2 separate regions of the Homo sapiens genome follow, and region 1 is linked to region 2. A link means that fine-mapping ties the variant in region 2 to the expression of a gene that starts in the linked region. Tissue or cell type: visceral fat. Region 2 holds a variant in brackets; the other region holds the start of a gene. All regions are shown on one strand. Distances are between the middles of the regions.

Region 1 (5,202 bases), 140 kb after region 2:
TCGCCTGTGATCCCAGCTATTTGGAAGGCTGAGGCAGGAGAATCGCTTCAACCCAGGAGGTGAAGGTTGCAGTGAGCCGAGATCGCACCATTGCACTCCAGCCTGGGCAACAAGAGCGAAACTCCATCTCAAACAAAAAAAAATAAAAAGCAAATCGACAAAATTGACATTTTCCTCTTCTCTTTGAAAAATGTTGGACCATTTTAACCACAGGATACACTTTAAATATATTCAGAAAATATAATAAATCAACTAAAAAATTTAGGGCAAAATTGGTACATTCCACCTAATGATCTAAAATTATTTTATTTTATTTGTTTTTTTTTCTTTTTTTTTGAGATGGAGCTTTGCTCTTGTTGCCCAGGCTGGAGTACAATGGCACAATATCGGCTCACCGCAACCTCTGCCTCCTGGGTTCAAGCGATTGTCTTCCCTCAGCCTCCCAGGTAGTTGGGATTACAGGCACCCACCACCACGCCTGGCTAATTTTTGTATTGTTAGTAGAGACGGGGTTTCACCAGATTGGCCAGGCTGATCTTGAACTCCTGACCTCAGGTGATCCACCCTCCTTGGTCTCCCAAAGTGCTGGGATTACAGGCGTGAGCCACTGCACCCGGCCCTAATTATTTTCTTATTTAAAATAAAAACATCACGGGATAACTCCAGAACTGATTGGAATGGCTAATCTTTTGTCATTGATGCCAAATCTCAAATCATCCCCTCAGAAAGATCATCCCTGACTATCCTACTAAAGCTTCCTCCCCTTACTGTTTGTATCATTACCTTCAATTTGCTTCCTAATTCTTTTCACTAACAGGATTTGTATTTTCACATGACATGGTGCAATCTCACACACATAATTTTCAGTATAAATGCTGGACACCAAAGAATACATATCATATGGTTCCATGAAAGGTTCATAAATAGGCAAAACTAATCTATGGTGTTAAAAATCAGGAAAGAGGTTACCTTTGGGGAGGAAAGAAGGGATGGTGGTTGGGAGGGGTGCCCAGAGAGGTGTTCTGAAATGCTGTGAATCTTCCTTCTTGATTTGAGTAGTGGTTAGGAAATGTGTTGACTTTAGGATAAATTAACAAGTTACAACTTATAATTTGCGTACAGTATTTTTCTATATGGTATATTCCAATTTAAAAAGCATAAAAGGGGCTGGGCGCAGTGGTTCACCCCTGTAATCCCAGCACTTTGGGAGGCCGAGGCAGGTGGATCACCTGAGGTCAGGAGTTCGAGACCAGCCTGGTCAACATGGTGAAACCCCATCTCTACTAAAAATACAAAAATTAGCTGGGCGTGGTGGTGCGTTCCTGTAATCCCAGCTACTCGTGAGGCTGAGGCAGGAAAATCGCTCGAACCCGGGAGGCAGAGGTTGCAGTGAGCCAAGATCGTGCCACTGCACTCCAGCCTGGGCGACAGAGCAAGACTCTGTCTCAATTAAAAAAAAAAAAAGTGTAAAAGGAAATTACTTGGATGTGTTGACTAAAGGCTCCCTGTGAGCAGGGATCCTCCTGTCTTAGTCGTTGCTCTCTGTTCCCCACTTGTAGAACAGTGTTAGCAGAAGGCAGGTACCCAAGAAGTATTTGCTGAATGGAGCTGTGTGCGTCTGTGTGTACGAAGCGGGGAGGTACCCTAATTTTACTGAGCCCTGTGTGGTTAAAGATATTATGCGAGGCTTTTAACGACTCTCTTCTGCTTAAACCAGAAAAAGGGTTATTTGCGACTTTTTCCACCTGTAAATCAGAAAACAGTAATTTTCTAACCCATCCACTGGCCACGAAGTTGCTAGGCAGGCAGTAGATGCGCTTTTCGTCCTCCTTTGCCCTGACGGTGCATCTCGACAAATGCCAAGCCCGCCGTCCCCATCCCAGAACCGACTTTGCTCCTTTTAGTCTGAAAGGTCCTTCCACCGCAGTGGACACAACACCGGGGAGTGCAGCTATCCCGGGCGTGTATATGGGGCGAAAGGGATCCCTTCTCGCGTTTCTCCGCCCCTCCTCTTGAGGGCCAGGCCCTCAGAACCGCAAGGACAAGGGTGCCAGGACCGCCCCAGCCTGCAAGTGCCACCACTATCACCGCGTCCCCTCACCCGACCCACAAGCGACCCTGCAGGAAGGGCTGGGGAGGCCTCGCGTCGCGTCCCTGGGAGTGGAGCGGAGCTGGGAGACGGGTCGCCAGCTCTGCGCCGGCTCGTGGCGCGTCCGAGCCCCCGGCACCTCCCCACACTGGCCTGGGGTCCGGAACCTCCGGGATCCCATGCTCTTACCCCGCCGCCCGCCGGCCGCTGGGATTCGCGCCTGCCGTGGGTCCCAGGAAGGCGCATGCGCGCTCGCCCCCGCGGCGGACTGCCCCTCCGGCCTTCCGCCTCCGTGTGCCCGCGCACCACCCGCGCGCCCGGTGCGGGAGCGAGCCCGTCGAGCGTGAGGGGAGGGGCGGGCAACCTGGCCTGGACAGGAGGCGGCCGGCTTAGGAGGCGGGGCAAGAGCCGATGGAACCCGAGAGGTCCCCAGCCCCGGGTTAGGCTAGGGGCAGGTGGAAAGCCCCTTGCTCTTCTTTCCTGGGATCGTGGCCAAGGCCGGAGCGGCTGCTTAGCCAACGGATTCCTGTCAGGGGCGGGCCCTGGCTTGCTGCACTGAGCAGAGAGCCTTGGCCGGTCCTCACCACCTCTGGGCCTGTGCCCTCGAGGAGCCAGAAAGCCAACCTGCTTCACTTTCTTCTAGCCACATGCCTGCGAAGAAGAAGACTGGGCAGCCCCCTAAAGTAAGAAACATTGAACATCCAACCATTTGCGAGAGCCTGTGCGTTGTGCAAAAGGACAGCCCTGCCCTCGAGTAGCCACTACACGTGCCCCAGCGGGCAGCTTGAATCACCTGGTCCCAAACTTGCCAAAAATACCTATCTAGTAAGTTAGTAAGACCTGCACACTTTTCCTTTTGCATTGATCCCTTCCTTTCCAGTTCCACTATTTCCATCTCAGTCTAGGCTTCTGTCCAATCACGCATGGACGGCTGTGATGATTTTTACTTGCCTTCCTTTGTTCAGAGAGTGCCCTCATTCCCCACTTCTGAATCTTGCCATTCTACGTAAGCCAACCCCTATAATTTGTAAGTGTTAGCAAATATTTGGCTAGGACTATGGCTTTCTACTGAGTCTGAATAACTTCTCTCTGGGCCTCAGTTTCTTCAACTGTGAAAGAAATCAGTAGGGCTAGGTGAACTTCCAGGTCTAAAATATGATTATATCTAAAAGACCATCAGCACTGGGAATATGGAGAAATATGGCAGGTCCCTGCCCTCAAGGCATTTAATTCTCATTGGAAAGACATTTTTATGCATAAAAGGATAAAAAGCTATAGAAGGAAACACATACTAAATGTTACATTACTTACATATGCACTAAGCACTGTAGGAGTTAGGAGAAGAGGGTTCACTGTAAACTGCAAACCATCAGGAAATGCTTTTCCTGGAGGAGTCAGCTGAGCTTTGAAGGAAAGCCTGGCTGGATAAGCCCAGAGAATGAGAGTAAGAATCTAGACAAAGGAAATGGTTCAAGCCAAATATTGTGGCAGCTGAAAAGTGTAGAACATTTCCTCTAGTTTAGGTGGTGGGTGATGAAGCTGGAAAGGACTGGTAATTGTAGAGAGCCTTGAATACCAGGCTATGGTGTCTGGAATGTATCCAGTGATCAGTAAGGGGCTATTAAATGACTTTTAGCAGGGAGTCAAGTATACAGTACAGTTACAGTGTTAGAGAAAACTTAAAGTGGTGAAAATGGATCAGATGAATCAGAGGGAGACTATAGCAGTCCACGCATGATTAGACAAGGGCTTGGACTGAGATGGCAATAGTGGAACTGCAAAGGGAGAGATCAATGCAAGAAGAAACATGTACAGGTCTTTTTTTTTTTTTTCTGAGACGCAGTTTCGCTCTTGTTCTCTTGTTGCCCAGGCTGGGGAGCAATGGCACGATCTCGGCTCACCACAACCTCCACCTCCCGGGTTCAAGCAATTCTCCTGCCTCAGCCTCCCGAGTAGCTGGGATTACAGGCATGCACCACCACACCTGGCTAATTTTGTATGTTTAGTAGACATAGGGTTTCTCTGTGTTGGTCAGGCTAGTCTCGAACTCCTGACCTCAGGTGATCTGCCTGCCTCGGCCTCCCAAAGTGCTGGGATTACAGGCGTGAGCTGCTGCACCTGGCCTCGTGTACAGGTCTTAATAGCATACTAGATATGTACAAGTGAAACAAAGGAGAGGGAAGAATCAAGGATGGCTCCCAAGGTTTCAAGTGTGCATTACAGTTCCCAAGAACTGATAGATCTTGGGAAGCCTGGAGAATAATCTGGCTTGGAGGGAAAGATGGTTCATTGTATTGAGTTCACGGTAACATAAAGACAAGAAAGTTGTAATACTCAGGTGTCAGTTATGAATCAGAGCCCAGGAAAGAAATTGGGGTGAAGATAGAGAGATGAAAGTGTTTCATTTGCTGAATAATGATGGAGACAGTATAGAGAGAAAATAAACAACCATACTTGAATAAATGCATTATCTCAGGCCAAAAGGAGAAAGGCACATTGGTGAAGGATGTTACATGGTTACAAATGTAGGGAGAAATCCATTACATTGCAGGATCATAAATATTAAGCATCTGGTGAACAAGAACCATGTTTGGCAGACCAAAAATCATACTTTATTGAATCTAAAGTTCCACCACTTGTAAAAAGCACCATTATTTTATGTACCACTGAGGAAGAAAACAATGCTACCATTTAAGCTAGTAATTACTGTAAAACATATAATTTCAGAAATATTAATATGTAAAAAGTATACATCTTAAAGTGATGGAAGTTGGTATCAATCTCTCCTTCCTGTTTCTCAACCCAACAGCTTCTGACCCAGTATTTAACAAAAAGTTAATGCTCAAAATGTTCATGAATAAATAGCGGAAGAGACATCACAGTCACTAACTCATAGCTGAATTGTCTCACCACTGCCATCTATATACCTTCTCCTGCTCTTTACCTTCAATAGGTATCATCTTTCACATGTGAATATCCAGTGCCTTTACATAACAGATGTTCAGAAAATGCATTTTGAATGATAGCATTTACTATAAGCAAAAAGGATAAGCCATAGCAAAATTGTAAAGCAGATCAAGTTTAGAGGCAGTGTAGAAAGGTGATTAAGAACT
Region 2 (5,000 bases):
TCAAATGATAGGGTTTTTTTTTCCTAGAATAATTTCTTTAATACTGTAACTGATGTTAGTCAATAACATTGTGTAATAAAACTCATCTGCTTTTTCTGTTCTGATGAACCAGAGAATCCTATTCAGGATACTACCATATGTTAAGCTAAATAGAAAAGAGGTCAGTCTTAGAGAATAATATAATTATACAAACATAGTTACTCTCTCTATAAAATTGCATGTCAAATGCTTTCTATCTTTTTAAAATTCTCAACAGCAGTATTTCTGGTAGCAACCAGAATTTTGATCCCAGTGAATCTAAACCTAGTATACCTAGAAATATAATATAACTTGTAAATTACGGGCATAGGTGGAAATTTGGGTAAGTTGGAAGTTAGAAGTTACCCACAGAGAGGTTACCTGTAAAAGGGAGGTAATTAGGACACAATAAGTAGATATCCTTTAAAAAAATTATCTATTTTTAAATTGTGCTAAATTATATATAACAAAATTTACTATTTTAATCATTTTTTAGGTGTCCAATTCAGTGACATTAAGAATGTTTACCTTGTTGTGCAACCATCACCACCATTCATTTCTAGAATTTTTTTTCATCTTGTAAAACTGAAAGTCTGTACCCATTAAACAGTAATTTCCCATTCCTCACTCCCTCTAGCCCCTGGCAACCACCATTCTATTTTTTGTCTCCATGAACTTGACTACTCTCCTATGAGTGGAATAATACAATATTTGTCCTTTTGTGACTGGCTTATTTTACTTAGCATAATGTCTTCAAGGTTCATCCATGTTGTAGCACATGTCAAATTTCATTTCTTTTTTTTAAAGCTGAATAAGATTTTGTTTTATATATATATCACATTTTGTTTATCGGTTCATCTGTCAGTGGATATTTGGGTTGCTTTTCTACCTTTTGGCTATTGTGAGCAATGCTGCTGTGAACATTGGTGTACAAATATCTGTTTGTGTCCCAGCTTTCAATTATTTTTGGAAGTGGAATCATGGAATCATATGGTAATTCTATTTTTAATTCTTTGAGGAACTGCCATACTGTTTTCCATAGCTGCTAAACCATTTTACATTCCCACCAGCAGTACACAGGGATTCTAGTTTCTCTACATCCTCACCAACACTTATTTTCTGTTTGTTTTTTTTGTTTTGTTTGGTTTTTTAATAGTAGCCATCCTAATAGGTTGTGAAGTAATATTTCATTGTGGTTCTGATTTGCATTTCCCTAATGATTAGAGATGTTGAGCATCTTTTCATGTGCTTATTGGTCATTAGTATATCACTTTGGAGAAGTGTATATTCAAGTCCTTTGTCCAATTTTGTGTGCCCACTTTTTTAAACCAAGATAGTAGCCACAGGAGCTGCTTATAACTTTACAGAACTACCAGATAGATATCACTTTTGTTAGCTAATACTGGTAACAAAAGAGTAAATATTTTAGGAAAATATCCCATATATCTAATCAAATTTTACCTATTCTTCCTTCATATGTTTCATCCGTCTCTTCTATTCCTACTAACAGTAAAGTAATCAATTTAGTATATTCTCGTCATTGTGTTGTAAAAGAGTGGTTGGGCCCAGTTCTAATATAATATTAAGAATAGATGGTCATAAACTCTGTAGTGGGTTTGCTCTTCTCTTCCCTTCTTTAATTCCCTTCCCCTCAATTCCATAAAGATTTATTATGCACAGGGCCTGAGATCTGAGTTTCTCTCCCTCAAGATGTGTGACAATAGGCAAGTTGCACAAACTGTTTTCCCTATTGGCTGAACTAAGTGATTTCTTAGATTTCTTCTAGTCTTGTCTATTATATCTTTTAAGGATTCTTTTAAGTATTATAACTTTTGGTTATTAGATGTCCGAATTATCTGAATAGTACACTACCCTCAGTAAATAATATTTTTAGATTGTCACCAAACATAAAGTGGGAGATGACAGCCTATTTTAACTCAGCTTACTTTCTTGTTTACTATTTTTTACGTATTTCCTTGGGTTTCTTAGATCAACCTGGGGCCTAATCTGTAAACTTTTTAAAAGCAAACATTTAGTTACTTTGTCTAAGAATTAACCATTGATAACAAAGCAATATTTTGAACAGTTAATATCAGGATGGAATATGTCTCCTTCTAAAAGATACTATTGCATCTTAATAGCATTTAGAAACAAAGGATAAGAAATGCTGTACTGTTTAACTTTAGTTTTTTAATTTCTATTTTCTTTTTCTTTTTTTTTTGAGACAGTTTTGCTCCCGTTGCCCAGGCTAGAGTGCAATGGCACGATTTCCGTTCACTGCAACATCTGCTTCCCGCGTTCAAGCGATTCTCCTGCCTCAGCCTTGGGAGTAGTTGGGATTACAGGCACGCACCACCACGCTAGGCTAATATTTTGTATTTTTAGTACAGACAGGGTTTCACCATGTTAGGCTGGTCTCGAACTCCTGACGTCAGGTGATCCACCCACCTCAGCCTTCCAAAGTACTGAGATTACAGGCACGAGCCACCACGCCTGGTGTAATTTCTATTTTTGAAGCGTTATAAATACCAGAACATCTTACATACCCAAATAGGGCAATATGTATTCCAAAGCTAAATATAAATTTTAAAAAATTATCTGCATTTTAGTTTGTTTGTACCTCTGTTTTCTTCTTGCCTCATTGGGAAATCAGATTAAATTGATATTAAGTAGATTTCTAAAAGCATAAATAATTCTTTAAACCAGTTTAATCTCAAGAAATAATGTTGTGATAGGGTAATGTGGATATAGTAGCAAAATAATCTTTTAGATAGATTAAATTTCT[G/A]TACTGTATATTTACTGTTCAATGATTTTCTTAGATTGACCATCTCTTCTATTTTTTCTTATTCCTGTCCTTTGTAAATCAATAGTTACTTACGAATAGTCATTTTCTAAGATCAATACAAACTTTTGGGGGATTTCTGTAATATAACATAGTACAATCTTTTTGCTTTATGCTCTAATTCTTTAATATTTTAATTCTATTTCTATTTCTCAAGAATCAGGAAGATACTTTTAACACTGCATTTGTCACTGAAAAAACTAGTTTTAATTTATATTGACCTTTTTCTCCTTTGAACATTTAGTCTGCATTGAATAAAATGTTGATGACTGCTCTTTAGAAGACAGCTGTATGAAATAAAGTATTATAAATATTCAGCTTCCCTTTCTAAGCATTGTCACCAACAGCTGGGCATCCAGTTTAGCAGAACAGATTTTGCACACAGAGAGCCTGGCATATTCCTGAATCAGTTTAGTGAAGGAAACAAAAAATAGTTTCTTATGGATTGGGGACTTATAAAGACATAGAGCATCTGTTCCTCAGTTAAGTCATAGTCTGGTTGCACTGAATCATGTTTAAAGCTAGAATAATGTGCAAAACTTTTTTTCACCATGCTCATACCTTTAACACCTAGTGCACTGTTTCTGTACTGTACTTTCAACATCTCCACTGAAAGTGTATAAATTATTTTGCTCTTATATATGATATTGTAATAGTGGTATTTTAAAGCAGACAAACATACTAACTTTTATAAGAGTTTTTATAATATAGGACTGATGTTTAAATTGTACGGTAGTCCTTGTATATATAACTGCATATATTTTTTAAAGAAACTCATTTAAATATTTAATTATGATCCCATTTAGAGATATGCAATTAGAATCAAACCTGTCATCATAAATAATTGCTTTCTTCATATGGTATTCTGCTTTAATACATAATATAAAAATTGGTTGGTAGAACTAAGAATCTTTGTTTATATATCTTCCCTTAATTATTGGGCTACTTTAAATAAAGCGTGTCAAATCTAAAATTTCTTTAAATTTTTTGTTTGTAGTGTTAAAAGATCACTGAAGTTGGATGGTCTGTTAGAAGAAAATGTAAGTATTTGCTTAAAAGTTTGTCATTGAATAAGATTGTGTTTTCAGTTTTTAACTACTGATTTATCTCGTTAAATATTAAAATTATCTTGATAATTTTAATTATATCACAGTGTGATATAATTGTGATTGGTACACCATTTTCTGCATATAAGATATTTTAGTTTTTGTGAATCTAATATGTGGAAGTTCCTGGCCAGCTTGAGGTGTTCAGTTAAGAAGCAAATTAATTATTTAAAAACCTTAATGAAATAATTTAGTAGAAATTAATTCACTATTTGTGGAAAAAAATAGTCTGCCACTTAAATGTACAAGAAACAATATGGGACAATGGCAGTACTTTTAATCTGCATACTATAATCTGCTAAAATGAAATGAAAACATTAGTAGCATTTTTATATCAAAAATGTAATTACCTTCCTCAGCTATGCTGGCATGGATTAAACAGCATAATACTAACACCGTAATAAATTGCACCACAGTTATCACAATGAAAATTAAATTGTACTGTTGCCATTACTTTTTGTAAATTGAGTTGTAGCACATTCCCAGTGCCAGCATATCATGACATATGTTAGTTTATTATCTTTTCATACCAACTATGGATCTAGATAGAAACACTAATACTGAGATACTTATGACCTCAGTAATCTTAAATGCAGGTAAATTGGTGAGAAAGTAAATTAAAACAAATAGCTAGTCAATAAGTAGGCTCCTCCAAATTCACATATGAATGCCATTTCAATAAATGGGTTTTATATGGAATTTTTCTTTGGAAGACACGCTGGTATTTAACAAAACAGAAATTTACCATTTAGAAAACTTGCTACATGCTTTTTAAAAATTTTTAAACAAAGGTGGCAAAGTACTGCAATGACACTTAAAAAATCATTAACAGTATAATTAGCAATTTAGAATACCATTATCCAACTTGTTCTGTGCAGAATGCAGCTGTGACTGTAATTCTGCATCTGTTTCTTTGGTCAGAATGGTTTTTTGGTAGATGAGTAGTCCAGCTTGAAATGAAATACTGTTCTTTCCTACCCCAAAGCTGTTCTTTGGGAGATGGTAACATTGTTTAAATGGAAAAGAATGACCGT

Which allele goes with the higher level. Positions count from the first base shown, and alleles are read on the strand shown. Sizes are in standard deviations (SD) of each study's normalised expression.
With allele G in place of A in region 2, the expression in visceral fat of the gene that starts at base 2,339 in region 1 is higher (moderate effect, 0.54 SD a copy in GTEx).

What was found. PIP is the estimated chance that this variant, and not a neighbour inherited with it, causes the effect.
Region 1: it holds the start of ALG6, and the variant in region 2 is fine-mapped to the expression of ALG6 in visceral fat (GTEx, PIP above 0.99).

The regions. Positions count from the first base shown.
Region 1 is chr1:63,364,764-63,369,965 of GRCh38, reverse strand. It overlaps ALG6 (ALG6 alpha-1,3-glucosyltransferase), which reads right to left and starts at 2,339. Exons shown (of 15, transcript NM_013339.4): 1 at 2,279-2,339. RefSeq lists enhancers at 1,770-1,879, 2,740-2,879 and a silencer at 2,060-2,539.
Region 2 is chr1:63,507,428-63,512,427 of GRCh38, reverse strand. ITGB3BP (integrin subunit beta 3 binding protein) reads left to right here. Exons shown (of 9, transcript NM_014288.5): 2 at 3,858-3,900. It overlaps LOC102724319 (a long non-coding RNA gene), which reads right to left. Exons shown (of 3, transcript XR_426701.4): 2 at 4,821-5,000. Among named protein-coding and RNA genes, the nearest start is that of ITGB3BP, 13 kb to the left of the region's middle. The variant G/A (reference allele first, on the strand shown) is at 2,804.